7 linked regions of the Homo sapiens genome follow. The protein of the gene in region 3 purifies or fractionates together with the protein of the main gene of each other region. This does not show direct contact. Each region holds a gene or a part of one and is shown on either strand. Other genes may lie near its edges. The genes, in order: MTERF3, STK3, ZNF133, SH2D4A, MCAT, DAP3 and STK4.

The links.
Region 1: the proteins of ZNF133 (region 3) and MTERF3 purify together in Homo sapiens (affinity purification with mass spectrometry; one large-scale study listed by BioGRID and IntAct). This does not show direct contact.
Region 2: the proteins of ZNF133 (region 3) and STK3 purify together in Homo sapiens (affinity purification with mass spectrometry; 2 studies listed by BioGRID and IntAct, with this or other methods). This does not show direct contact.
Region 4: the proteins of ZNF133 (region 3) and SH2D4A purify together in Homo sapiens (affinity purification with mass spectrometry; one large-scale study listed by BioGRID and IntAct). This does not show direct contact.
Region 5: the proteins of ZNF133 (region 3) and MCAT purify together in Homo sapiens (affinity purification with mass spectrometry; one large-scale study listed by BioGRID and IntAct). This does not show direct contact.
Region 6: the proteins of ZNF133 (region 3) and DAP3 purify together in Homo sapiens (affinity purification with mass spectrometry; 2 studies listed by BioGRID and IntAct, with this or other methods). This does not show direct contact.
Region 7: the proteins of ZNF133 (region 3) and STK4 purify together in Homo sapiens (affinity purification with mass spectrometry; 2 studies listed by BioGRID and IntAct, with this or other methods). This does not show direct contact.

What each region holds. Positions count from the first base shown.
Region 1 is NC_000008.11:96,248,111-96,251,610, forward strand, and holds part of MTERF3 (transcription termination factor 3, mitochondrial isoform 1 precursor), read right to left. Parts: intron 2,986-3,500; coding exon 2,796-2,985; intron 1-2,795.
Region 2 is NC_000008.11:98,542,689-98,546,188, reverse strand, and holds part of STK3 (serine/threonine-protein kinase 3), read left to right. Parts: intron 1-3,500. UniProt on the Homo sapiens protein: Stress-activated, pro-apoptotic kinase which, following caspase-cleavage, enters the nucleus and induces chromatin condensation followed by internucleosomal DNA fragmentation.
Region 3 is NC_000020.11:18,287,275-18,291,326, forward strand, and holds the start of ZNF133 (zinc finger protein 133), read left to right. Parts: upstream 1-1,252; 5' UTR 1,253-1,330; intron 1,331-2,624; exon of another isoform or gene 2,625-2,800; intron 2,801-4,052. UniProt on the Homo sapiens protein: May be involved in transcriptional regulation as a repressor.
Region 4 is NC_000008.11:19,330,693-19,334,192, forward strand, and holds part of SH2D4A (SH2 domain-containing protein 4A), read left to right. Parts: intron 1-2,262; coding exon 2,263-2,422; intron 2,423-3,500. UniProt on the Homo sapiens protein: Inhibits estrogen-induced cell proliferation by competing with PLCG for binding to ESR1, blocking the effect of estrogen on PLCG and repressing estrogen-induced proliferation. May play a role in T-cell development and function.
Region 5 is NC_000022.11:43,136,899-43,140,398, forward strand, and holds part of MCAT (malonyl-CoA-acyl carrier protein transacylase, mitochondrial isoform a precursor), read right to left. Parts: intron 401-3,500; coding exon 183-400; intron 1-182. UniProt on the Homo sapiens protein: Catalyzes the transfer of a malonyl moiety from malonyl-CoA to the free thiol group of the phosphopantetheine arm of the mitochondrial ACP protein (NDUFAB1). This suggests the existence of the biosynthesis of fatty acids in mitochondria.
Region 6 is NC_000001.11:155,727,091-155,730,590, reverse strand, and holds part of DAP3 (small ribosomal subunit protein mS29), read right to left. Parts: intron 2,984-3,500; coding exon 2,853-2,983; intron 1,550-2,852; coding exon 1,469-1,549; intron 1,384-1,468; coding exon 1,225-1,383; intron 1-1,224. UniProt on the Homo sapiens protein: As a component of the mitochondrial small ribosomal subunit, it plays a role in the translation of mitochondrial mRNAs. Involved in mediating interferon-gamma-induced cell death. Displays GTPase activity in vitro.
Region 7 is NC_000020.11:45,077,517-45,080,521, forward strand, and holds the end of STK4 (serine/threonine-protein kinase 4), read left to right. Parts: 3' UTR 1-2,505; downstream 2,506-3,005. UniProt on the Homo sapiens protein: Stress-activated, pro-apoptotic kinase which, following caspase-cleavage, enters the nucleus and induces chromatin condensation followed by internucleosomal DNA fragmentation.

The sequences.
Region 1 (3,500 bases), on a different chromosome or scaffold from region 3:
ACACTGTTGGGGAGAGTATAAACTGGAAAACAACCCCTATGAAGGACAATTTGGCAATATCTATTGAAGTTACAGATGAACACACCCTTTGACCTAGCATTTCCACTTCTAGAAATACGTCCTACAGAGAGACACCAATATGTGTGATTTTTCAGAAGTATGTACAAGGTAAGTCACTACAGCCTTGTCCTAACAGTGGACTGGAAACATACTCCATGCTTATCAATAGGTACTAGCGAGATCCGCAGCATGGACTGTACTAGAGTTAAAAAGAATAGGCAGCACCAAGAAAAAATAATCTCCAAGATACAGTGAAGGTAAGATAGTGGGATACAGAATAGTGTGTATAAATGCTACCAATTGTTATGTATTTGTATTCATGTGTGTATACACAGATATATGCTTCCTAGAAGGTTGAACAAAAAATCCTGATAACAGTAGCTGTGTCGATAGGTGGGTCTTGAAAGGCCAAGGGACAAAGTAGGAGAAAAGGAGGTATTACTTGTTTTTTTGGCAGCAAGGTTCAGCATTTGATTAAAAAATTATCAAAACTATTGTCTACATTGTAATGATTTTTCCAATAAAAAATCAAGATATAAGGCCCACCCAACCAAAAAAAGAGTATTTAAATAATTAAAATGCGACTATTCATTTGAAAATTCTACAAGGATTTTTTAAATATAACTTTTTATTTAAAAAATAAGTACATGAAATCAGTGCTGTTATAGAAATAAGACTGCTGCATATATCAGAACCAGAAACAAAGTTCATTTAAATAAAGGTTCTCATACCTGTGCCTATTCAGTATTTTTTACTGTATACTCTTTTGAATACATGTGGCTGCATTACCTATTAAAAAATTCTAAGTAATTTTTAAAAATGTTCTACAGCTTAATTTGATAGCCAGCCAGGTTTAGGAATCAATGGACTATGCTACCGACGTGAGAATATTCCTCAATTGTTAGGAGCATATATGGCTTGAGCAAGTAACTTAAGCTATTAAGTTTCCTTCAAAGAATTAAATGTAGAGACAGTGTGTAGTAGTCAGAACCCTGGAGTTTGATTAACTGGGGTTGAAACCACTTACTCTGCTACTTATACTAACGGTGTGTAATCTTGGGCAAATTATTTAACCTCTCTGCGACTCCTATGTACAAAGGTGCTATTAACAATAATGGTGCAGCGTGTGAAATGATCCCTACCCTCCTGGTATTCATGCTTTCTTGGAATAAATCTTGAGCAAAAAGGGCAAGCTGGTTTTTGACTGCAGAGAGAATTAGTGTTCCTGACAGCCAAGAAGACTAGAGCTGGATATGTCAGATGAGTTTCTTAGAATCATTCTCTCTCCCTTCTGTATTGTGATAGACTATCACTCTCATGAAGGGAAAGACTGTTTTTGATGTCTAAAGTTTAGGCCAGTGTCTCACATATAGAAGGGCTCAAATGTTCAATTTAATAAATAAGGTTTTTGTTTAGTTTTTTTTCCTAATTCCGAGAAAAGACATTAGACTGATGGTTTAAGGAATCGCAAAGCTCTCTGAAATGTAGTAAGGATCAACATCAGTGTGGAGAACAGTCTGGAGGGTCATGACTAGAGGCAGACCAATTAGGAGACCATTGCAGTAATCTTGGTGTGATATTATGGGGAACTGAGGCAAAATAGTCAAAGCAAAGATTCAGAGAAATGTCATGACTGATTTGAGCTATAAGAAGAGAAGAACTGATGGGCTTTCATGATTTATTAGATGTAGATGATAAAAGAAGAGAAAGCAAGTTAATACCAGTATTTCTGAGTTGGGCAAAAGGGTATTCAGTGAATCTGGGAATACAGACTGGGTTGAATGACAGGTGGGGGCGACGATGAATTCAACATGTTAACTTAGGGACAGGGGTTTTGCCTTGTTCTCTGTGGTATTCCCAATGCCTAGCAGGATTCTTACCTCACAGATCAATATCTCACTGTATTTATTTTCACAAATTCAATAATTCTTTGAATGTTGAATGAAGTACAGAGATGTTTATAAAAGTGCTCCTTAAGAAGAAAACAAGGAACAACCAAAATAGCCAACTTACGGAAATGATTAAGCAAATTATACAGTAATTTGCCAAGACAATCTCAAATGTCTAACAACAAAAATTGGCCAGACAAAAACTACAAAAACCACAAAAGATCATATCTTTAAGTGCACTCTCAGATAAGTTAGCTATTTGTTGATGGGTTTTTTTTTTTTTTAAGAAAAAAACGTATTCCAGTTTCTAAAGAGAAAGAGTTAATTACTGACTCAGTAATAAGTTGAAAACATAAAAATAATAATGGAGCCAGGCAGGGTGGCTCATGCCTGTAAAATCCCAGCACTTTGGAGGCCAAGATGGGCAGATCACTTGAGGTCAGGAGTTCGAGAACAGCCTGGCCAATGTGGCGAAACCCCATCTCTCCTAAAAATACAAAAATTAGCCAGGCATGGTGGCCACCTGTAGTCACCCAGCTACTTGGGAGGCTGAGGCAGAAGAAGAAGAAGAAGAAGAAGAAGAAGAAGAAGAAGAAGAAGAAGAAGAAGAAGAAGAAGAAGAAGGAGGAGGAGGAGGGGGGGAGGGGGAGGGGGAGAAGAAGAATGGGTACTTGAATGAAAGAACTGTTGTAAATACTTAATTTAGATCAAAGAAGGTCTATAACAAAAAAAATTCATGTTATCTCAGTAGACCCTTGTGCAGCAGAGATTTAAAGAATACCTTCCACATATATTTCCTTCATAACCACTTCTTAGGTTATATGAGAATCCTTTTAAAAGTCCTACCTGGTCTTCAGATTTTCAAGGTCTTCAGAGAAAATTGCATGATTTTTTGTCAGGAATGCTCCCAGTTGGTTATCCTCTATACCCACATCTTTAAGAAACAGAAGCATTTGCTTAATGTCTTTTTCAAAATCCAGTCTCAGAAGGAGGTTTGCTGCTTCTGGATGTTTTTCTATCTTGGACAAATCCACGCCTATAATAAATTATAAATACTGTTTGAAGATGACTTCTTAGTTCACCCATTAAACTCATATACATAAGCACAAGAAATTACTGATGGAGATCAACACCTATCCAAAGGAGCACTGAGATAGATCAATAGAAACTTCTAAATATTTTTAAACTAAGTTGGTTGCAGAAACAACATAGTATTTATTTTAAAAATCAAGTACAGAGGAAAATAGAGCATTTAGTGCTACATTTCCCCCCAAAACAAATTCACTAAGTCATATTGGTGTAGGGTCATCATCTTTGTCTAAGGTTTCTTGAATATTGTTTCAGAATGTTTGTCAGTCCCAGATGAACCCCACAGTAACTGGTAATTCTGCAGGGTAACAAACAATATGAATAAAATGTTACCTTCTTTGAAGATTTTATTTTTCCTTAGTTATAAGCATTATTTAAAAAATATGTTTATGATTCCCATCATAGGGGGAATAAAAATGACCCTGTGCCTTACTCATCGTTGTAATCTCTAGGTCTTTAGCA
Region 2 (3,500 bases), on a different chromosome or scaffold from region 3:
GTATGACTTTTTGTCACAGAGATTTTAGTGAAAACCAATTTTGAAGTTGAACAGATAAGTGGTTTTTATAGCTGCAGTTGTTTTATGGACCTCAGCAAATTTTAAATCCCATGAGCCAACTTTCTGTGTTTTTTGTTTTTACAAGTTAGACATCATTCTGTAATGTGAGACTTCAGTGTTTCCAAAATTCTAATCAAGTGATGTTAGTATAACCCCTAGGGATTGTCATATTGTAGTATAGCAGTAGTAAAGTATGTGAAGAAGTTATTGAGGGAAGACTTACTTTTTCTGAAACCATATAATTATTGTAGTTTTGTTTTTCTCGTGATCTAAATCTTTAAAACTTCTTAAATTAGTTGGTATGAGGTCTCAGCTTATGTCACATCAGTCAAAGCCACATTTGCTAATGTGTCTTTAGCATTTTTGTTCCCTAATAAGATGATAGCAGTATATTATTTTTGGTTTTCTAAAATCTCTACAATGTGTACTGAAGATTTAGAATTTCATCTCTTTTTCCATTGGAGTTTCAAGTGAGTTGCCTGATTTAACATCCTTGTCAGTTTAAATTATGTTTACACTTACTCTTTTATACCTTTAACCATGAAGCTAGAAATTATGGGCCTATTTTCCTTACCTCTAGAAAGGAAAATTACCCACAGACCCTTTGAAGGGAAGTGGAGAAAAATGACAAAAAGTATTTTAAAATTTGATCTGCCTTTTAAAAAATGGACGTGGACCCTATGGGCATGTCCCAAGAATAACTTTCTAAACCTGTTTTTAGCAATGATGGCATTACTTTTACCCTCCCGCTCCCAGTCTTCCTATTCAGATATCCCTAAGGCCTCCTCATTCCCCATGGAATGTCCAGGCTTCAGCTGTGTCACCAAGATCCTTCACAGTCTGGCACTAGCCATTATTTACATGTGGATCTCTACTTCTTCCTTATGGATTATGTTTTATCCATACTAGTCTGTGCCAGTTGGAATTCTGAATGCTTGACACTGGGTAAAAGCAGGTTGGTTGTCATTCAAGAAAATCAATTTAGGATTTATTATCCTGGAGTAGATTAGGACCAGGTCAAGAATCTATGTCATCAAACTGATGGGGTAGGAGAGATTATTTCATCATGGGTGACTCTGGGAGAGTAGTAGCTTCAGCAAAGAAAGACTGGGGCTTTTTAGTTTGTTCAGCTCAGATCTACTCAGTTAGCTCTGTTTTTATGGAGGAACTTTCTGATCTTACAGAGCTGTGGCTAGATTGGTAGCACTAGTTGCCCTGGAGGGAAACTATGTCTTATGGGTATCTGAGGAAGAGCCATATTTTCCAGCCAGGTTTTTATTTTTCATGTGTGTATCTGTTGTTTCTCCAGATAAGTCACGAAGTTTGTCCTGGTAAGAATGCTGTATAAATCTCCTCTGCCACATAATAGTACATGCTCTTGGAATATTGGTTTCATGAATGAATACTAATTACAGTAGAGTCAGAGTCAAGCTGTGTGTGTGTGTGTGTGTGTGTGTGTGTGTGTGTGTGTGTGTGTGTTATAGTAGAATTAAAGATACATAGCTCTGGAAGCTAAGAGAACTTTCAGGTAAACCTCCTGCCTTGGTAAGATACTTTCTTTTCAAGTGTTCTACCATCCCTGCTTCTCATTTCACAGAGCAGACCCTCTGAAAATGTGTTCCTTAAGATACCCATTCAGTGAAATTCTCTGATAAATATAGATAAATAATATACAGTAATCAGAATTATTTGGGAAATGCATATTTATCCTAGAGATAAATTATTAGAGAACTACAGTATATATTATTAACTTATTAAATACAAATAGTACAGGAAGGAAACAGTTTAAAAATTACATTACCCAAACTTTCCTTCACTTATTTGACCATGAAAAGCTTTTAATGAGGAACGTATCAGTGATTAACATCCTGTGTAATAAGCATCTGAGAAACACATTTTGGGAAATGCTATCATGAGAGCCCTCTAGTTCCCTGACCCTAGTTCCTAGTCTGCTTTCTTTTTATTAGCACACCCTCCCTTCACTTCTATATCCAGCTTAGAGGCTATATTTCATTATTTCGTTGCTTCTGCCACTCTCGTATGTTCTAAACTCCTCTTAGAGGCTATATTTCATTATTTCATTGCTTCTGCCACTCTCTTATGTTCTAAACTCCTCTTAGAGGCTATATTTCATTGCTTCTGCCACTCTCTTATATTCTAAACTCCACTGCCCTAATGTCTTGTCTTTTCTGCCTCTCCTGGAAAACTTTGATATGGTCCAGTCTCAGTGTTCATCTTCTCTGCATCTTTACCCTGGCTATTGAGTGCTGCTGGAGATAATCTTCCATCTGCACAGATGAGGGCTGCCAGATCAAGACCTTCTCCCCCATTTGGGCCCTCAACTTTCCTGGAGGCCTGTGTTTCTCTGTTCAGCAATTCCTCATTCTACAGAGTGGCTAGTTTAGATCTTCACTAGATCTCTTCTTCCTGCCTCCCATCTCAGTTTCAGTAGATGACGTTGCTCCCTACTTTACAGAAAAAAAGTGAAATGTTATCATGCAAGTACCTAGAGAAGCTGTATAGGTGTTTTAAATGTGGTCTTTGGAATAAGGTTGAAAAATTGAGTCATTCTTAATTTCCGTTTCTTCCTTCACCCTTCATGGAAGTAACATCTCATCAGTTCTGCCCCCTAAATATCCCTATTCTCTTCTCATGATCTCTGCTTGCATTTCTTTAGTGCAAGTCCTCATAGTTTCTCACTTGTGAGGCTTCTAAACTGATCCTCTGCCTCCAATCTTCATTCCCTCCCCACCATACAGATTTCAGCACATTTCTCTTCTGCTTATGCCCTCCCAGTGACTACCAATTGCTTATAGGCTAAAGCTCAACACCAGTTAAGAAGCAGTATATGCTCTGGTTCCTACTTACCTTTCTATTCCCTCTTCATCCTTCTTCCAGCTTCTCAGCTCTTACAGAGCTTTTTTACCTTTGGCCACTTGCAATGCCTAAATCCTCCTGTGGGATTTATGCTTCTTTTGCTAAATCATATTCATTCACTCAGGCTCAGTTAAGAGGTTGCTTCCTCTATCAACCCCAGGTTAGGAATAAGTGCCCCTCTAATAGGCTCCCATCTCACCCCAAGCTTTCACTCTTACAGCACTGTCATGCTTTATTGTGAGCGTGTGCTTTTGTTTATTTCCCACTGTATTTTTGATACCTAATACAATACCTAGCACTTGGTAAGAGTTCATGAAATGTTTTCTGAACAAATGATGTGGTATAGTGAAGAGCATGGGATGTGAAGCCAAATCATTTAGTAATTGTGTTGCTTAATTCTGTCTGAGTTTCAGTGATAAATATTTGTCTCTCTGTTGTGTGTATATGTGCAGGTGTGTGTATTAGGTAAATTCAAAACATGCCTAGCAGTGTTTTAAATATAGTTGATAATCAATAAAGGATAATATTCATCTGTCCACCCTATTAATTTATCCTTCCAACAA
Region 3 (4,052 bases):
GTCAGCCATCTGTGTCTTTATTGTACAGCCAGCACAAGTGAACACTTGAACACAGGCATCCCTGCATTGTTGTTCTGAACCTTTATGTGTATTAACAACTAATTTCTTGGTGATGACTGACTCATGAGGCAGAGAATGATGTTGAGGGATGAATCCAATTGACACTGGACATGTCTCCGGAGCCAGGACTGAACTGAATTCACAATAAATAATGTAGCCTCGGGGTACCAGAAGGGAATGGATTCACCCTCTGAGAGCTACAAAAGAATTTTAGGAAATTCTCATCTCCCTGGCCCTTCAGACAGTGGTCATTTTCTTGGTCTTCCAAGAGAATGACAAAGTTTCAGAAAGCCTATCTGAGGAAGGTGAAGGGCAGTGAGAGGGTGCACGGGTGGAAAAGCCCTCTCAAGAGTGACGTGGGCCTTCCCCTCGAGCTCCCCAGATGGGGCGTCCCAGATGGCACCAGCGCAATCTTGTTCTCAACCAGGATCCCGGACAAAGACCTAGAGATCCAAGCCGACGGCAGGCCAAGCTCTGGCCCGAGACTGAGGCTTCTGCTTCTCAGGAGATGAGAGTTTAACAATAACTTCGTGGATTTCAAAAAGAAGAAAAAGGTCTCAGGGCACCGGAAAAGGTGTATTCGGGTTGAGGGCGTGGGCTCAGAATCGGGTCTACCTCGTACGGGATGTGAGACTTCAGGCAGACTGCTCGGCCTTTTCAAGGCTTTAAATGGAGCTAAAGGGTATACGACATGACGTTCGCCCGGTGTTTAGGAATATGGGGCGTGACTTTCCAAGCAGGCGGCTGGAGCCAGGGAGACCACAGGCCGCTGCAACACAAACCAGCACCTGAACAAGCTTGGTCAGCCAGCGGTACACCTCCGCCAACCCCAGAAGCCGAACAGATGCGCCCCGAAACGTCATTTCCGCGCGCCAAGGGGCGGGGCCGGTACCGGGTGCGGAAGTCGCTCCAGGGGTCACTGGGAAGTGTAGTTTTCGAGACAGAGGCGCTCAGAAGGAGGGTCACAGTAGGGCCAGGCACTCTTCTCGGGAGCTCCTACGTGTTTTATGCACGTGGTTAAGAAAAAAGAGGGAGAATTCAGGTGCCACAGTGGCCATTCTCCGGTGACCGGAGCGTGTTACTCAGAAACGGATCCGTCAGAGGCCAATGGGAGCTGCCGGCCTTCAGGGCGCGCCTGGTGGCGCCGAGCATCCTGGGAGGTGTGGTCCGGGCGCTGTGCCGAGGATTCGGGGTAGTGTAGTCCTGGCGCCCCGCTGGAGGAGCTCCCCAGCTGGTGGCTGGAGCGACCCCTTGTTCTTTGGTGGCGCTGGTGAGTGAGGCTCCCGCGGGACCCTTGCCGCAGCCGTACCCTTTTCTGCGCGAAAAGGAAGGTCCCGAAAGGCTGGACTATGGGCTGAATTTGGGGACCGTGCGGGTGGCGCGGGGGTGGTGATTGTGGTGGGAACGCGCTGGCGTGGCGCAGGCCGTCCTCTCCCAGATGTCTTATTTTGGGGGTGTGGGCGTGCATCTCCAGGGGAGTTGGGTGAAGCCCATCCGTGAAACTGGATGGTGATGAGTGGGGGATCGGGCTCTCTCTCCTAGGGTTCTTGTGGGTGGGGACAGGTTCGGCTTTGGCTGAAGTCGGGTATTGGGAAAGGGAGTCGCTGATGCCATAAGTCCCCGGTTTTGGGGGAGTTGAATAAATAAGCTTTTTGGGGGAATGGTATTTCCCAGGTGGTGGAATGGGAACCATCCCTGGGGCCATGTGTCCCCGAGGCATTGGTCGGTTGAGGGCTAGTCTCTTGGGGCCACACTATTCTTCGGCTTTGCTGGAGTGGAATGAGGAGCGGTCTGGCTTGACCAAACAAGCCAAGGTTAGACTGGATCTGGGGTGGCCATTTTGCCGCGATCTTAGGGTTTCACTTTGGTTGGTCACCCCCGGGTTCGGGCGTTGGAGGAGGAAGTCTGGCTGGGACGCACAGGACAGGTTTTTTCCAAAGGTCCCAGGGACCGTCATTGATCGCAAGAATTACGGATTCCCAGGCCCCTGGTGTGGCCAGGCTTTGGGATTTTACATTCCATTTAAGTTTTTATTGCGGAGAAATTTCAAACAGCCAGAAGTAGATAGAACTCTATAGACCAGATCTCCATCACCCAGATTCAACACTTAAAACCTTATGACCAATCTTGATTCATCTCAGAATGGACACAGAGAATCCTTGCAATCCAGAGTTCACCGTCACTGCCCTTACTGTGTAAGAGCACGGTCTCCACAGCCACATTTCCTCTAGGCTCTGTCACTTTATAGCTGTGTCACCTTGGGCAAGATGCTGACTTCACTGTACCTCAGTTTCCTCGATTTTATCCTAAAGAGGATAATAGCATCTATCGTATTGGGTTGTTGAAAGGATAGAATGAGGTGAAACTCCTACAGTGGCTGTAACAGTCTCTGGTGTATACTAAGTGTTCAGTGAATATTACCTTTCATTAATAACAGGCACAGAGAAGGTCGCTTCATGCTCAGCGTCAACAGCATATCAGGGCAGGTCGTGCTTTCAACCTGTACCCCAGCTGTGTTCCCAGGAAGCTGCCCGCAGTTCTTTTCTCCTTTTCTTCTGTGGCAGGTTCATTCCTGATGCTGTTAAGGAATAGGAGGTACTGCCCTGCTGGAGAGGATTTCCCTTGATTTTCTTGAACGCTTTTTGTTCTTGTTCTGCCTCCCTGTGGCTCCTGTCTGCCCAGAGAGGACTGCCTGCTGGGGAAAGGGGGTACTCCTGAGCTCCTGACAGCCCAGCTTCAGGTGGGTGCCACTTACCTTTTGCATTTCGAACCATGAGTGGGTTTCTTTTGCTCAGCTTTGACGTCTGTGTTCTACAATGTCCCATCCAGGGATCAGGGCCCCAGCTGGTTCCTTCAGGAAACTAGGCTTGTTTTAAGAGTGATCATTTTCACAGGGAATATTTTTCAGAGCTGATGCTCTCATTCATTACACCTATATTCTTCCCCTACATTCCTTCTTTCAGTATTTGTTCAGACTGCTCATTCCCAGGGCTTGTCAGGTCCTGTGAAGTTGTTAACATTCTGTTCTTCTGTCTTCCAATACTCTCACTTACTCTTTTCCCTGCTAGAGTTTTGGCAGCAAATCCCAGTTATATCATTTCACCTGGGAACACTTCAGGAGGCATCTCTAACACATAAGGACTTCTTTTTTTAACATAACCACAATTTCATTGTTATACAGTTACATTGTTACAATTATATTTTGTTATACCCAACAAAATTAATAACTTATTAATATCATTTAATATCTAGCCCATATTGTTTTCCCCCATTGTTAAAAAAAAAATCTTTTTTTTCCACCAGTCAGAACAGCCCTGGTCAGAGGCAGGAGAGGGAAAAGTATCTGGAAACAGCATCCCAGTTTTCCCTATCTCTGCCTCATTTCTCCTCCTATTTCTTCTGATCTTGCTGATCTGTGTTGACAGCCTTATAACTTGATATAAGCTGGACCTCTGAGTTTTCCTTGCATCCTTGTTTCCAAACTTACTTCCCATTAGAAGTTGTGTCCTCCTGGCCGGGCACAGTGGCTCACACCTGTAATCAGCACTTTGGGGGGCCAGAGCGGGCAGATCACCTGAGGTCAGGAGTTCGAGACCAGCCTGGCCAACATGGTGAAACCCCATCTCTACTAAAAATACAAAAATTAGCCAGGCGTGGTGGCACACACCAATAATCCCAGCTATTCAGGAGGCTGAGGCAGGAGAATCTGTCGCCTGGGCAACAGAGCAAGACTCCACCTCAAAACAAAACAAAAGTTGTATCCTCCTATTCCACCTGTGCATTCTTCTCGATTCCTTTTCTTTCCCTTTGTCTCCATTTCTGCACTGCCCTAGCTTCCTGTCTCTTCTTCACCTTCTTGCCTTGTCTTTCCTCCCATTTAGAGCTGAACTCCTTGAAAGAATTATCTATGTTTGTTGTCTGCGTTGCTATCCTTCTGTTATGTTTCGAATATTTTAGTAAGGCTTTTTCAAGTGACACCAAAAAATATTCTT
Region 4 (3,500 bases), on a different chromosome or scaffold from region 3:
TCCCTCTGCTCTTCCTTTTTCTTCCCCTGGCACAGTGCCACTTGCCATCTTTCTGGGCATCTTCCTCTTGCTGTCAAAAAAAAAATACCGACAGAGAACTACTTAGGTGAAGGCTGAGAGGCTGACATAAAAAAAATATTATTAGTTGGCCTGAGAGAGTGTAATAAAGGGAGTTTTATGAGGTATGACAGCTTTCTAAAGTTAACAAACCATCTGGCATTATGTCAAACAGACAAAGAGCTTGCCAGGAGCTGGCACTGGTGCCCAGCCCCATTTGGGCATGGTGGGATTGACCTTCCCCTCCTTACCTGGAGGCCACATTTGCTGTTTCTCCACAGTGAAAACAGTAAATGGGAATTCTTTGGTAGTGCAGAGTCTGAGTCTGTTCCCTCTGCCCAGCGTCTCTGTTTAGAACATACTGCAGGAGTGTCCACTGTACCAAGAAGGGTAGAAAGGGTCAAAAGAAAGCACGAGCCTGGCTTTGAGCAGCCTGCTTTGGTAATGTATCCCAAGGCCACAGTACAAAAGTCAAGAATACGTTGGACAGAAGACACCTTAATTGGAAACCTCCTTTGACTTAGTGTGAGAGGACAAGACACAATCCCAGTGTGGATGTTTTGCTCATCAAACAGGGCCCAGCACACACACCAGCCAGGTGCCCTCTTCCATGCAGTCAGCACCACTGCTAGTTTGGGGTCTTGACTAGAGGTCCACCTTTGGCCCACAGTTGCCCTGGGTAGGCCTGACAGACTCAGGGATGGTCTCTGTTGGCCTCTCCTAGGTACGCTCCACCTGCCCCCGGTTTAAGGGAGCATGACCGATGTGGCCGCATTTCAGGAGCACTAGGATATAATCTAACCTGGAGGCCAATTGTAAACAAGGGTTATTTAAGTAGCTTCACCAAGTATCATACTACCTGGTTATATTATCTTCTCACAGGCTGGTGTGAATCTCTGAGGCAGCCATATAAGTAAATAATAGGCTAGCAATGATAGCAGTTAACCTCTATTGAACTCCTGTTATGTGGCAGGCACTAGGGGAAGAACTTGGCACAGGTAGCCTGCCTGCCCACAGCAACCCTAGGTAGTAAATATTGGTATTCCCATTTTGCAGATGAGGAAATTGAGTCTAAAGAGTTTAAGAAAGTTGTCCAAGTCACATAGCTCGTAAGTGACAGGGCTAGGATTTGAACTCAAGGTGGTCTAAATCTAAAATACCTCCTTATCTGAGGCAAGAGGATTGCTTGAAGCCAGAAGTTTGAGACCAGCCTGGGCAACAAAGCAAAGCCCTGTCTCTACAAAAAATTTTAAAAATTAGCTGGGCATGGTAATGCATGCCTGCATTCCTAACTACTATGAGCTCACCACTGCACTCCAGCCTGAGTGACAGAGCAAGACACCATTTCTAAAATAAAATAATAAATACAAATAAAATACAATATAAATAAAATAATAAAACCTGCTTTTTACCCACCTATGAAGCCTGTGAATGTAGTACAAATGCCACACCCTTGAGCAGCTGTGGAATTCTGGGTTACAGGGAGATAGTTAGATGTAAGAATTTATGGTGTGAAGTGCTAGCTCTGTTACCCTAAAGGATAATGCAAACAATGAATGCTTGCTTCCCATTTCAGTTTCTTCATTTATAAAATAGGCACATGCAGCCAGGCGCAGTGACTCACACCTGTAATCCCAGCACTTTGGCAGGCTGAGGTGGGTGGATCACGAGGTCAGGAGTTCAAGACCAGCCTGGCCAAGATGGTGAAATCCTGTCTCTACTAAAAATACAAAAATTAGCTGGTCGTGGTGGCAGATGCCTGTAATGGTGAAACCCTGTCTCTACTAAAAATACAAAAATTAGCTGGGCATGGTGGCAGGTGCCTGTAATCCCAGCTACTTGGGAGGCTGAGGTGGGGAACGGCTTGAACCCAGAGGCGGAGGTTGCAGTGAGCCAAGATCATGCCACTGCACTCCAGCCTGGGCAACAGTGTGAGACTGTCAAAAAAAAAAAAAAAAAAAAAAGCACGGGCAAAAAACATACCCCTAATATTTTTAAAACAAATATTTTCACTGAAGCTGCCTCTCACTGCCACCACTGCCATTGCTACCTACAGATGTTCCTGAGCAGTTGGAAGTTCTTTGTCTCATCTGATATATATATATATATTTTCAAAGACCCAAAATACTTTAGTGATGGAAACAGTAATCTGTGACTAAAGATATTTGTTCAATCTGAATTTTTTGTTTGTGTGTTTGTTTGCAGAGAATGGCAAATCGGTTCATTGGAAACTTGGAGCTGATAAGGAAGTCTGGGTATGGGTGATGGGCGAACACCATCTAGATAAACCCTATGATGTGCTCTGTAATGAAATTATTGCTGAGAGGGCCCGGCTGAAAGCAGAACAGGAGGCAGAAGAGCCCAGGTATGAGATCTGCAAACCAACCAGAGACTTAAAGACTCTCCAGACTTTAGAAAACATTGCAAACACACCTCTTGCTCACAGTATCAGGTGGGAGAGTAGGGTTGGGTTGGAGGGTCACAAAAGTCACTTTGGATCTCTTTGGAAGGTTGATTTAGACTTTTGGTCTAAAGACCTTTTGGATCTCTTTAGAAGGTTGATTTAGACTTTTGATCTAAAGTCTTTGATAGCACTAAAGACCTCATGAAAATCTTTAGTGCTGTCAAATCAGCTGCTTCATCTCCCTGCTTGTCATTCCAGTTTTGATCTGTATGAGTGTATGAGTTCCCCAGTGATCACCCGTGGCTGCACTAGAGTCATGTTAGAGCAATGCAGGCCGACGCAGCTGAGTATCAGGAACATATGTGAGAAATGCAGTGACTGTGCAAGCTTCAGGCCTTCCAAGGAGATCACTTAGATACAGGCGGCTGGATAATCAGGCTCTTTAGGTGCCTACCCAGTGCAAGGTACTGGGAATTCAAAGAGAAACAGGGAGCTTCCAGTCTAGGAGGAGAAGTAGACATATGCACAGCTCACTGCGGCCAGTGCAGGCTGTGATTTGTGCTATAATTAAGGTACAAACAGAAAGTTTACCAAGCATAGGTGGGAACCTATCATTCTGATCCACAGACGAGGTGAAATCTGAACCAAACCTTGAAAGGAGTGGTTTTCCAGCTACAGAAGGCCAGGAAGGAAAGTGCAGGCAGAGGGCTTAACCAAGATCCCTAGACTTGACTACGGATGGTTCTTTGGGGAATGATGAGGTCTTCTGAGCATTTGGAATACACTTGGACAACTGCTTCAGAGGCCAGATTTAGGAGTTTGGAACTTATTCTCTGGACGGTGAGGTTTTTCAATAGGGAAGTGACATCAACTGCAGATGTAGGAAGGTAACTCGGAGGGAAACTGAGGCAGGTGATGGCGCTCCTCTGCTGGGTACCTGGGGTGCTCTGGGTGTCCTCCTCTGGCTCTGGGCAGTGATGTTGACAGCCTTACCCTGAGGTGGTGAAGTGGAAATTGGGACAGACATGAGGACCACCGT
Region 5 (3,500 bases), on a different chromosome or scaffold from region 3:
CAGCATTCTTGCTCCTGCCTGCTTTGCAGCACTCGGTCTACCTCACTGCCCTGGCCCCAAAATACTTCCTAAAGACCGGGCTGGACCCAGCACCCGCCAGACTGCTAGGCCTCACGGGTGTGGAGCAGTTCCAACCCTCCGTACTGGACTGGCCTATGAAGGCAGTTCCCATCAACACCCACCTCTTGGTGTCCTGAAATCACCCTGCAATCTGGAAAGAGGTAGTTGGACACTTCACATACGGGGTTCTCTATGCCTAAAGACTTGCAGTGTTCCCGGGCTTCCAAACAGGCGAAGTTGAACTTGGACTGAGGCTGGCCGAGGACAGACAGCATCCCACTGGGGACAGCTTCTGAAGCTTCCTGCATGGCCTCAGCTCGGATTTTCACTGCATACAAACCTGGCCAGAGAGAAGCGCATTTGGAAAAATGAGGGCACAGAATGAAGGAGAAAAGGCCAGGCCTGAGAAACAAAGCCCAAGCTCCACTCTGCACTAGAGACAGGGGCACTGGTGTCTGCCACCAGCCAGCAGGGCCACAGTTCCACACACCTCCATCGACTGCACAAGCGCTCACCACCAAAAGTATGCTGCTGTGCTTGGCACTATACAAACTAACCCAAGGAGCTTCCTGCTATAAAGCTGGTTTGGAGTAGGACAGTGGTGCTCAACAGGCCGGGGGCAGTGTCCGGAGACGTTTTCCGGTTGTTCTGACTAGGGGAGAGTGCCACTGACGTCTAGTGGGTAGAGTCCAGGGATGCTGCTCAACATGCTGCACTGCACAGGTCAGCCCCCCTTGCCCCCAACAAAACAAATGACCTGGCCCAATAGCGCCACTGTTTTTTTTTTTTTTTAAATAGTGCCACTATTGAGAAACCCTGGTAAAAGGTAAAGAGGAACAGGGTGGAAGCCACATTGCCTTAGCCAAGTCACAACCTCCTTGAGGTTCAAATTTTTAGTTAGTAAAATGAGGATAATAATATCTAATCTGCCTGGGCTGTTGTGAAAGCTGGGAATTATTATTAGTTAGTTTATTAAGAGAGATCAGGCCGGGCATGGTGGCTTATGCCTGTAATCCCAGCACTTTGGGAGGCTGAGGCAGGACGGCTTGAGCCCAAGGAGCTCGACACCAGCCTGAGCAACATAGGGAGACCCTGTCCCTGCAAAAAATAAAATACAAATTAGCCAGGCATGGTGGTGCCTGCCTGTAGTCCCAGATGCTTGGGAGGCTGACACGGAAGGATCACTTGTGACCAGCAGGTTGAGGCTGCAGCTGTAGTAAGCTATGATTGCTCCACTGCACACCAGCCTGGTGACAGAGCAAGACCCTGTCTCAAAACAAGAACAACAAAAAAGAACCATCAGAGACATGGGCTACTGTACTACATGAATTTCAGTGACATAATTGTCATAAGTCAAGTGTTACTGTCCCCACTTAGAGCTGGAGAACCTGACACAGCCAATGCAGATGAACGAAAACCTATGACTCCTGATTCAGTGTGGCTCAAGAGCATGGAGAGAGGGCAGGCAGTGCCAATGATAATAAGAGTGGCCTGAGGGCTGGTCGCTGTGGCTCGCACCTGTAGTTCCGGCACTTTGGGAGGCCAAGGCAGGCAGATCACTTGAGCTCAGGAGTTCGAGACCAGACTAGACAACATGGTAAAACCCTGTCACTACCAAAAATACAAAAATTAGCCGGGCGTGGCAGTGTGCGCCTGTGGTCCCAGCTACTTGGGAGGCTGAGGTGGGAGGATTGCTGGAGCCCAGGAAGTTGAGGCTACAGTGAGCTGTGTTCATGCCACTGTATTCCAGCCTGGGTGACAGAGCGAGACCCTGTCTCAAAAATCCCTACAAAGCCACACATAAGAATGGCCTGAAACTACCAGACCCCTGACACCCTGGTCCTGCTTCCTGGGCAGAGAGAAGAGATGACCAGACTGAGAAGAGATTAAGGGACCTGCACAGTGTTTCACAGGTCAACAGAGAGGTCTAAGGAGCAAATCCTGACATATCTTCATTCACTTAGCACTTCTATGTACTGGACTTTTAGCTCCCTTACACAAGAACAGGAGGACAAATACATAAACAGCCTGTGACATCAGGTACTTAGGAGGCTAAGGCAGGAGGACTGCTTGAGATCAGGAGTTAGAGGCTGCAGTGAGCTATGGTTGCATCACTGCACTCAAGGCTGGAAGACAGAGGAAAACTCTGTCTCTTAAAAAACAAATGAACAAGAGCCTGTGACAAGAAGTAGAAGAAAACATACAAGAAAAGGGAGGAGAGCACGCAGACATCCTCCCACAGAGACATTCAAAACTATGTAAAATGTCAAGGGAAAAAAGTAGGCCAGGCACAGTGGCTAATGCCTGTAAGTAATCCCAGCACTGTAGGAGGCTGAAGCTGGAGGATCACTTGAGTCAGGAGTTCCAGACCAGCCCTGGCAACATAGCGAGACCCCATCTCTACAAAAACTTCTAAAATTAGCTGGGCATGATGGTGTGAGCCTGTAGTCCCAGTTAGTCTGGAGACTGAAGCGGGAGGATCACTTGAGGCCAAGAGGCTGAGGCTGCAGTGAGCTACGACTGCACCACTGCACTGCAGCTGGGGTGACAGAGCAAGATACTGCCTCAAAAAAGAAAAAGAAAAAGAAAACACAAAAGTGTAACTATGCTATAATTCTGCACTTTTTTTTTTTTTTTTGACACAGAGTCTCATTCTCTAACCCAAGCTGGAGTGCAGTGGCACAATCTCGGCTCACTGCAACCTCTGCCTCCTGGTTCAAGTGATTCTTGTGCCTCAGCCTCCCAAGTAGCTAAGATTACAGGTGCACGCCACCACACCCAGATAATTTTTGAATTTTTAGTAGAGATGGGGTTTTACCACGTTGGTCAGGCTGGTCTCAAACTCCTGCCTTAGGTGATCCACCCACCTTGGCCTCCCAAAGTGCTGGGCTGGGATTACAGGCGTGAGCCACCACACCAAGCCTAATTCTGCACATTATGTACACATAAAATGATACATGTAATAAAATTGTTTCATAAAATGTGAAATTATGAAACTTTCCTTAATAATGTTATAACGCTTAAAAAAAAAGCACTGCAGTGAAATTCACATAAAATATAATTAACCACTTTAATGTGTATAATTCAGTGGTATTTGGGGTATTCATAATGTTGTACAACCACCAACTCTCTCTAGTTTCAAACACTCCATGTCCACTATGTAGGCACTCTCCATTTCTCCCTCTCCAGTCCCAATAACCTCTCGTGTTTCTATACTAGATTCTTTTTTGTTTGTTTTGGACAGGGTCTTGCTCTGTCACCCATGCCGCAGTGCAGTGGCACAATCGTGGCTCACTGCAGCCTCAGACTCAGGGGCTCAAGTGATCTTCCCTCAGCCTCCTGAGTAGCTGGAATTACAGATGCATGCCACTAAGTGCAGCTAATTTTGTGTATGTGTGTGTGTGTGACAGGGTGTCACTCTGTCACCCAGGCTGGAATGC
Region 6 (3,500 bases), on a different chromosome or scaffold from region 3:
AGCCTGGAATGCAGTGGCACGATCTCCACTCATTGCGGGCTCTGCCTCTTGGGCTCAAGCCATCCTCCCATCTTAGCCTTCCAAGTAGCTGGAGCTACATACAGGTGCAAACCACCATGCCCAGCTAGTTTTTTATATTTTTTGTAGGGACAGGGTTTCACTGTGCTGCCCAGGCTGACCTCAAACTCCAAACTCCTGGACTCAAGCAAATCACCTCTTGGCCTCCTAAAAGTGCTGGGATTTATCAGCCATCACACCAGGCCTTGCTGTTTATCTTCACATATATATACGAATATGTATGTGTGCATATGCATATACGAATATGTATGTGTGCATATATACGTATATATACATATATACATATATGAATATTATATATACATATATACATATATGAATATTATATATACATATATGAACATATAGGTATATTCGTATATTATGAAAACATATGAATATATGTATATATAAATATATATGAATATATGTGTGTATATATACATATATGAATATATATGTGTGTATATATACATATATATGAATATATATATATGGCGATCTCGGCTCACTGCAACCTCCGCCTCCTGGGTTCAAGCGATTCTCCTGCCTCAGCCTCCCGAGTAACTGGGATTACAGTCATGCACCACCATGCCCGGCTAATTTTGTATTTTTAGTAGAGATGGGTTTCTCCATGTTGGTCAGGCTGGTCTCGAACTCCAAGCTCAGGTGATCCGCCCGCCTCAGCCTCCCCAAGTGCTGGGATTACAGGCATGAGCCACTGTGCCCAGCCATATATATATTTTTTAAGAGACAGGATTTCACTCTGTCACCCAGGTTGGTGTGCAGTGTTGCAATCATGCCACACTACAACCTTGAACTCCAGGGCTCAAGTGATCCTCTGGCCTCAGCCTTCCAGTAGCAGTGACTACAGGTGTGTGCCACCATGCCAGCTACCGGCTAATTTCTTATTTTTTTAGAGGCAGGGGCCTTGCTATAGTGCCCATCCTAGTCTTGAACTCCTGGCCTCAAGCGATCCTCCCACCTCAGCCTCGTGAGCCAATGGGATTACAGGCGTGAGCCACTGCACCCAGCTCTTTACTGTTTATCTTCAAATATTCCTAGGGCAAGAAAACATATTGCATGGTCTACAAGGCTAAGACCCAGCCTCCATACTGATGGAATCAGAAATCAGAGAAACAAGATAGAGACACCCAGTTTTCCTACCGGGCTTTTATCTTCTCTTTTCAGAGTGGTTCTTCCCCAAAGAGCATTGATTCCATCCACGGCCACTAGGAGGTGAAACATACCCAAAGAACTTTGCCTCTTTAGCTCTTTCAGCACAATTCCAACTGCATCTGTGGCGTTCCTCACCCGTGTTATGCCCTATTGGGAGAGACAGTGGATTGTAGTGCTACCAGAGGCCTTCTCTTGTTATCGCATGTTACACATTCAGTGTTTTTTCTTATACCTGTTCAACCACTTCTCCCAGAGGACTCCCTTTCTCAGTGCTTTCTCTCTTATTCCAGACATACTTCTCTTGAACTTTTATCTAAAAGCAAGCAAAGAAAATAAAAACCAAAAAAAAGGCTACTTGGCCTAAGGGTGAAACCATCCCTTGAAAAGGTTGGAGGCTAAGGTTAACAGGAGTTCATTTTAATCTATTGTTCAGGTTCTGTAAGAGACCTCAATGTAGAAGTGAATGCTTTCTTTTCTTTCTTTTTTTTTTTTTTTGAGACAGCTTCTTTCTCTGTAACCCAGGCTGAAGTGCAGTGGCATGATCTCAGCTCGCTGCAACATCCACCTCCCAGGTTTAAGGGATTCTCTTGCCTCAGCCTCCCAAGTAGCTGGGATTTCAGGCGTGTGTCACCACGCCTGGCTAATTTTTGTATTTTTAGTAGAGATGGGGTTTCGCCATGTTGGCCAGGCTGGTCTAGAATTCCTGACCTCAGGTGATCTGCCCACCTCGGCCTCCCAAAATGCTGGAATTACATGTCTGAGCCACACGCCTGACCTCTTTTATCTTTTTTTTGAGACCATATCTCGCTCTGTTACCCAGGCTGGAGTACAATGGCGCTATCTCGGCTCACTGAAACCTCTGATTCCCAGGTTCAAGAGATTCCCCTGCCTCAGCCTCCTGAATAGATGGGCCTACAGGCGTGCACCACCACACCCGGCTAATATTTGTATTTTTAGTAGAGATGGGATTTCACCATGTTGGCCAGGCTCATCTTGAACTCCTGACCTCAGGTGATCTGCCTGCCTTGGCCTCCCAAAGTGCTGACATTACAGGTGTGAGCCCCTGTGCCTGACCAAAGTGAATGCTTTCTAATCCATTTCTGCTTGGAGCCTTGAATAAACATACATAAGGGATTCTGATGAAAATGTCCAGAATGAGACTCTGGCATCTGCATTTTTAACAAGCTCTTAGGTGACTCTGCTTTATATCCAGAGTTGAAGGCCCCTGGTCTAGACAGGGTATCTAAGAATCACCAGGGTAAAGAAGAATTTTTCCAATACATTTCTGGTTCCCTAAAAAGATATTGTCTGGAGAAAATCATGTAGTTGGAAATGTGCTTGCGAGGGATTGGAGGCTGTACCTTGAAAAGTCAATGAATCAACTGGATTTCACTTTGCTACCCACAAAATGGGAACAACTTACTGTTGCCTATTTATTTCACATGGATAAATGAGTTTCAAGTTATGAGTCCACTGTGAGCAAAACGTATGAAAGAAATTAAAAATGATACAGTTATTCCAACTCCAGTATCAGTTCTCCATAGTCTATTGGTACTCAGGGCACAAAGAATCCATGTAAGGACTACCTAGCACTCAACTTCTGGGAGTCTAGTCACCTGGTTCAGGAAGCGCTCATTTGTAGTTTTGAAATTCTTCAGCCAGGTTGAAGCCTCTAAAGGTTGATCAAAGCGCTGTTTGTTGTAGCTGGACTGCAGAAGATCCCGACAATTTTTCACCCAAAGATGAGCTTTAAAAAAAAGAGGCAGAAGAAAACAAGCCAGGCAGAAACTGTATTCAACTCGAAATATTCTATGCCTCTTTTAAGTTATGGGAAATGACTTTAGTTTCTCATATATATATTTCTTTTCTTTTTTTTTTTTTTTTTTGAGACAGGGTCTTGCTCTGTCACCCAGGCTAGAAGGCAGGATGTGATCACAGTTCACTGTAACCTTGAACTCCTAGGCTCAGGCAATCATCCTGCCTCAGCCTCTCAAAGTGCTGTTGAACCACTATGCCTGGCCTTGTCAGGTCCATCTTAGACTAAACATTATCATTAGAATCAATATATAAAACATACCAAGTGTATTAAATATCACTTCTGCTTTCTGGCAGGTTTGAAAGGTAAGTCAGAAAATGTGGATGTTACATAAGCAGGGTTGTTTAAAAAAGAAAGAAAATGTGGATGCACACAACACTGAACAAAAAAGAGACAAATGCAAGTTTTGACAATCCATACTGACGACTCTAGAATGCTGATAAATAGT
Region 7 (3,005 bases), about 27 Mb from region 3:
CTGGGATTACAGCATATGCCACCATGCCCAGATTATTTTTTTGTATTTGTAGTAGAGACGGGGTTTCACCATGTCAGTCAGGCTGGTCTTGAACTCCTGACCTCAGGTGATCCACCCGCCTCAGCCTCCCACACTGCTGGGATTACAGGCATGAGCCACCGCTCCTGGCCTCTCTTTCTTTTTTAAACAAAGAACTTTGCACTTGGCCAGAGAGGAGGAGAAAGCCCATTTTCTCCCTTCCTAAGCTAGATCCAAATAAAAGAAAGTTCAGTTTTCCCCCATAACTATTCTTGGGTCATGAACTTTGATCTGGAGTTTGTTTTGTTTCAGGAATGTGTGCACCCAGCTTGCTGATCCAACAAAGTCTATTGCTTACCAGTCTAGCTTGATGAAGCCTTTTGGCCAGAAGTCAATTTGTTTTGGATCAGAGAAATTTCCTGACAAGGTATATTTGTTTTCTAGTGACAGAAAGGCAAAGGAACAAGTCCTAGTTGTTGTTGTTGTTGTTGAATACTAAATTTAAGATATGTCAGCTTGCTTTCAATGAGCCTTGGGCTTCTGTTATTGCTTGAGCATTTGGAACTCGAGCTTCCAGAGAAATTTGAGGTCCTCGCTTGTTCTCTGCCTTCAAGAAACAATGACCTGATTCTGTCTTTAAAAAAAAAAATCTCAGAATTCTTTTTTTGTTTGTGTTTTTTTTTTTTTTTGAGACAGAGTCTCACTCTGTTGCCCAGGCTGGAGTGCAGTGGCGCCATCTCGGCTCACTGCAACCTCCGCCTCCCAGGTTCAAGCAATTCTCCTGCCTCAGCCTCCCAGGTAGCTGCCACTACAGGTGCTGCACCACCACGCCCGGCTAATTTTTGTATTTTTAGTAGAGACAGGGTTTCACCATATTAGCCAGGTGGGTCTTGAACTCCTGACCTTGTGATCCACCCGCCTCGGCCTCCCAAAGTGCTGGGATTACAGGCGTGAGCCACCTTGCCTGGCCAAAAATCTCAGAATTCTTTAAGACTGTTTTAATTGCTCCATCAGTAATTTTGAAGCACTTTCCTTTTTTTTTTTTTTTCCCCTTTTTGTCCCTTTCCCCAAGCCACCAATTGGATGGATGAATGTTTGACGGGGAAGAGGAAGGGTAGGAGGATGCATGGATGAGTGGATGAGTGGATCGATGGATGTATTGATAAATAGATAGAACCAGTCATCTGAAGCAACTTAAGAATTGTAGCCTTGACTCCTTGAGACTGTAGATTTCGATCCAGGAAACATTTATTTAGCACCTGCCAGATGCCAGAAATTTATACCATTTAAAACTCAGTAAGTCTTTTAAATATCAGGAAGGAGAGAAGCGACATCATGATACATCCTATGGGTATTAAAAAGCCAATAGAATATTATGAATAATTTTATGCTAATAAATTTAACAACTTCAACATCATAAACAAATTCCTTGAAAAATAAAAAGTACCAAAATTCATTCAAGAAGAAATAGATACCAGCCTGAGCAACATGGCAAAATCCCATCTCTACAAAACATCAAAAAAAAAAAAAATTAGTCGGGCATGGTGGTGCACACCTGTAATCCCAGCTTGTCAGGAGGCTGAAGTGGGAGGATCACCTGAGCCCAGGGAGGTCAAGGATGCAGTGAGCCATGGTCTCACCACTGCACTCTAGCCTGGGTGACAGAATGAGACCCCGTCTCAAAAAAAAAGAAGAAGTAGATAATCTGAATAGCCCTATATCTATAGAAACTTAATAGTGCTGGGAGATATAGGTATTATTATCCTCATTTTACAGATGTGAAAATTGAGGCTCAGAGAAGTAAAGTCTATTGCTCAAGGTCATGTGGCTAGAATATGGCAGAGCCATGATTCAGATCCAGGTCTTCTGATTCTTATTCCAGTGTCCTTTCTAGCATACCATGTTGCCTCTAAAGATTGCAGCTCCTTATTTACTAGAAAATTGTTCCTGCCCAATCTACATCTCCACCTCACCCCATCTTTTCTTAAGCACTATGTTTGTGTTTTTATCAGTATTATATTCATTGTCTTTGGAATACATGTTCTTGTTTGTGTTTGGAAAAAAAATCTCTTTTACCAGCTTGCACTCGGACCAACTTGGAAAAAAAAAAGCTTAAATGTTTTTGCTATGTACAGTTTAAAAATGTGAAGTTTGTAGCTTTAACTTTTTGTAAGAAAATCTAATAACACTGGCTTAAGTGCTGACTTGAAATGCTATTTTGTAAGGTTTGGATGTAAGTAATCAATTGAGGTCAGCAGTTTGTATGAGACATAGCTTCCTCCATTGCCCCCACTCCTTTTTTCTTTTTTAAGTTTGAGATGCTTCCTGTGTTTTTATGTTAGAATTGTTGTTCTCCTTCTTTTCTTCTTCCTATACCTCATCACGTTTGTTTTAAATAAACTGTCCTTTGGACCACAAACCCTTATTAACGAGAACCTCAATATATAGCCTGGATAATGGTGTTGTGAACAATCTTTGTGACATTGACTCAGTGGTGTGTTTATTCTAAGATCCAAAGCTGGGGAGAGGTTGGTAAACTTTTGTTGGGCTTCTATTATGTGCCAGGGTACTGAGCTAGTTATCAGGAATATAATAAAGATGAACCAGATACAGTTTTTGCAGGGCATTTGGGGAGTTAGCCAAGCACAAAAACACACAACATTGAACATACCATGGTAGAAGAAGGTACAGGGCCTGTGGATACACAGAAGAGGGAGTGACGGTTCTGCTGGGATGTCCAAGGAAACTCTTCTAGAGGAGACAATATACCTTGAAACTTTAAAAATGAAGAAGAGATGGCTAGATTAATAAAGAGTAGGAAGTGAGGGAGAGAAGACATCCTGGACAGAAGAGCCCGCCTGTATAAAGCCTCTAGTGTGAGATGATCACCTTGGAATCCTTCATCCTCATCTGCTGCTGCACGAAGCCAGGCCAGACGTGGCCCAGCATTCAGAGGTGGAACAGCAGGTTCCTGCCCTGGTGTGGCC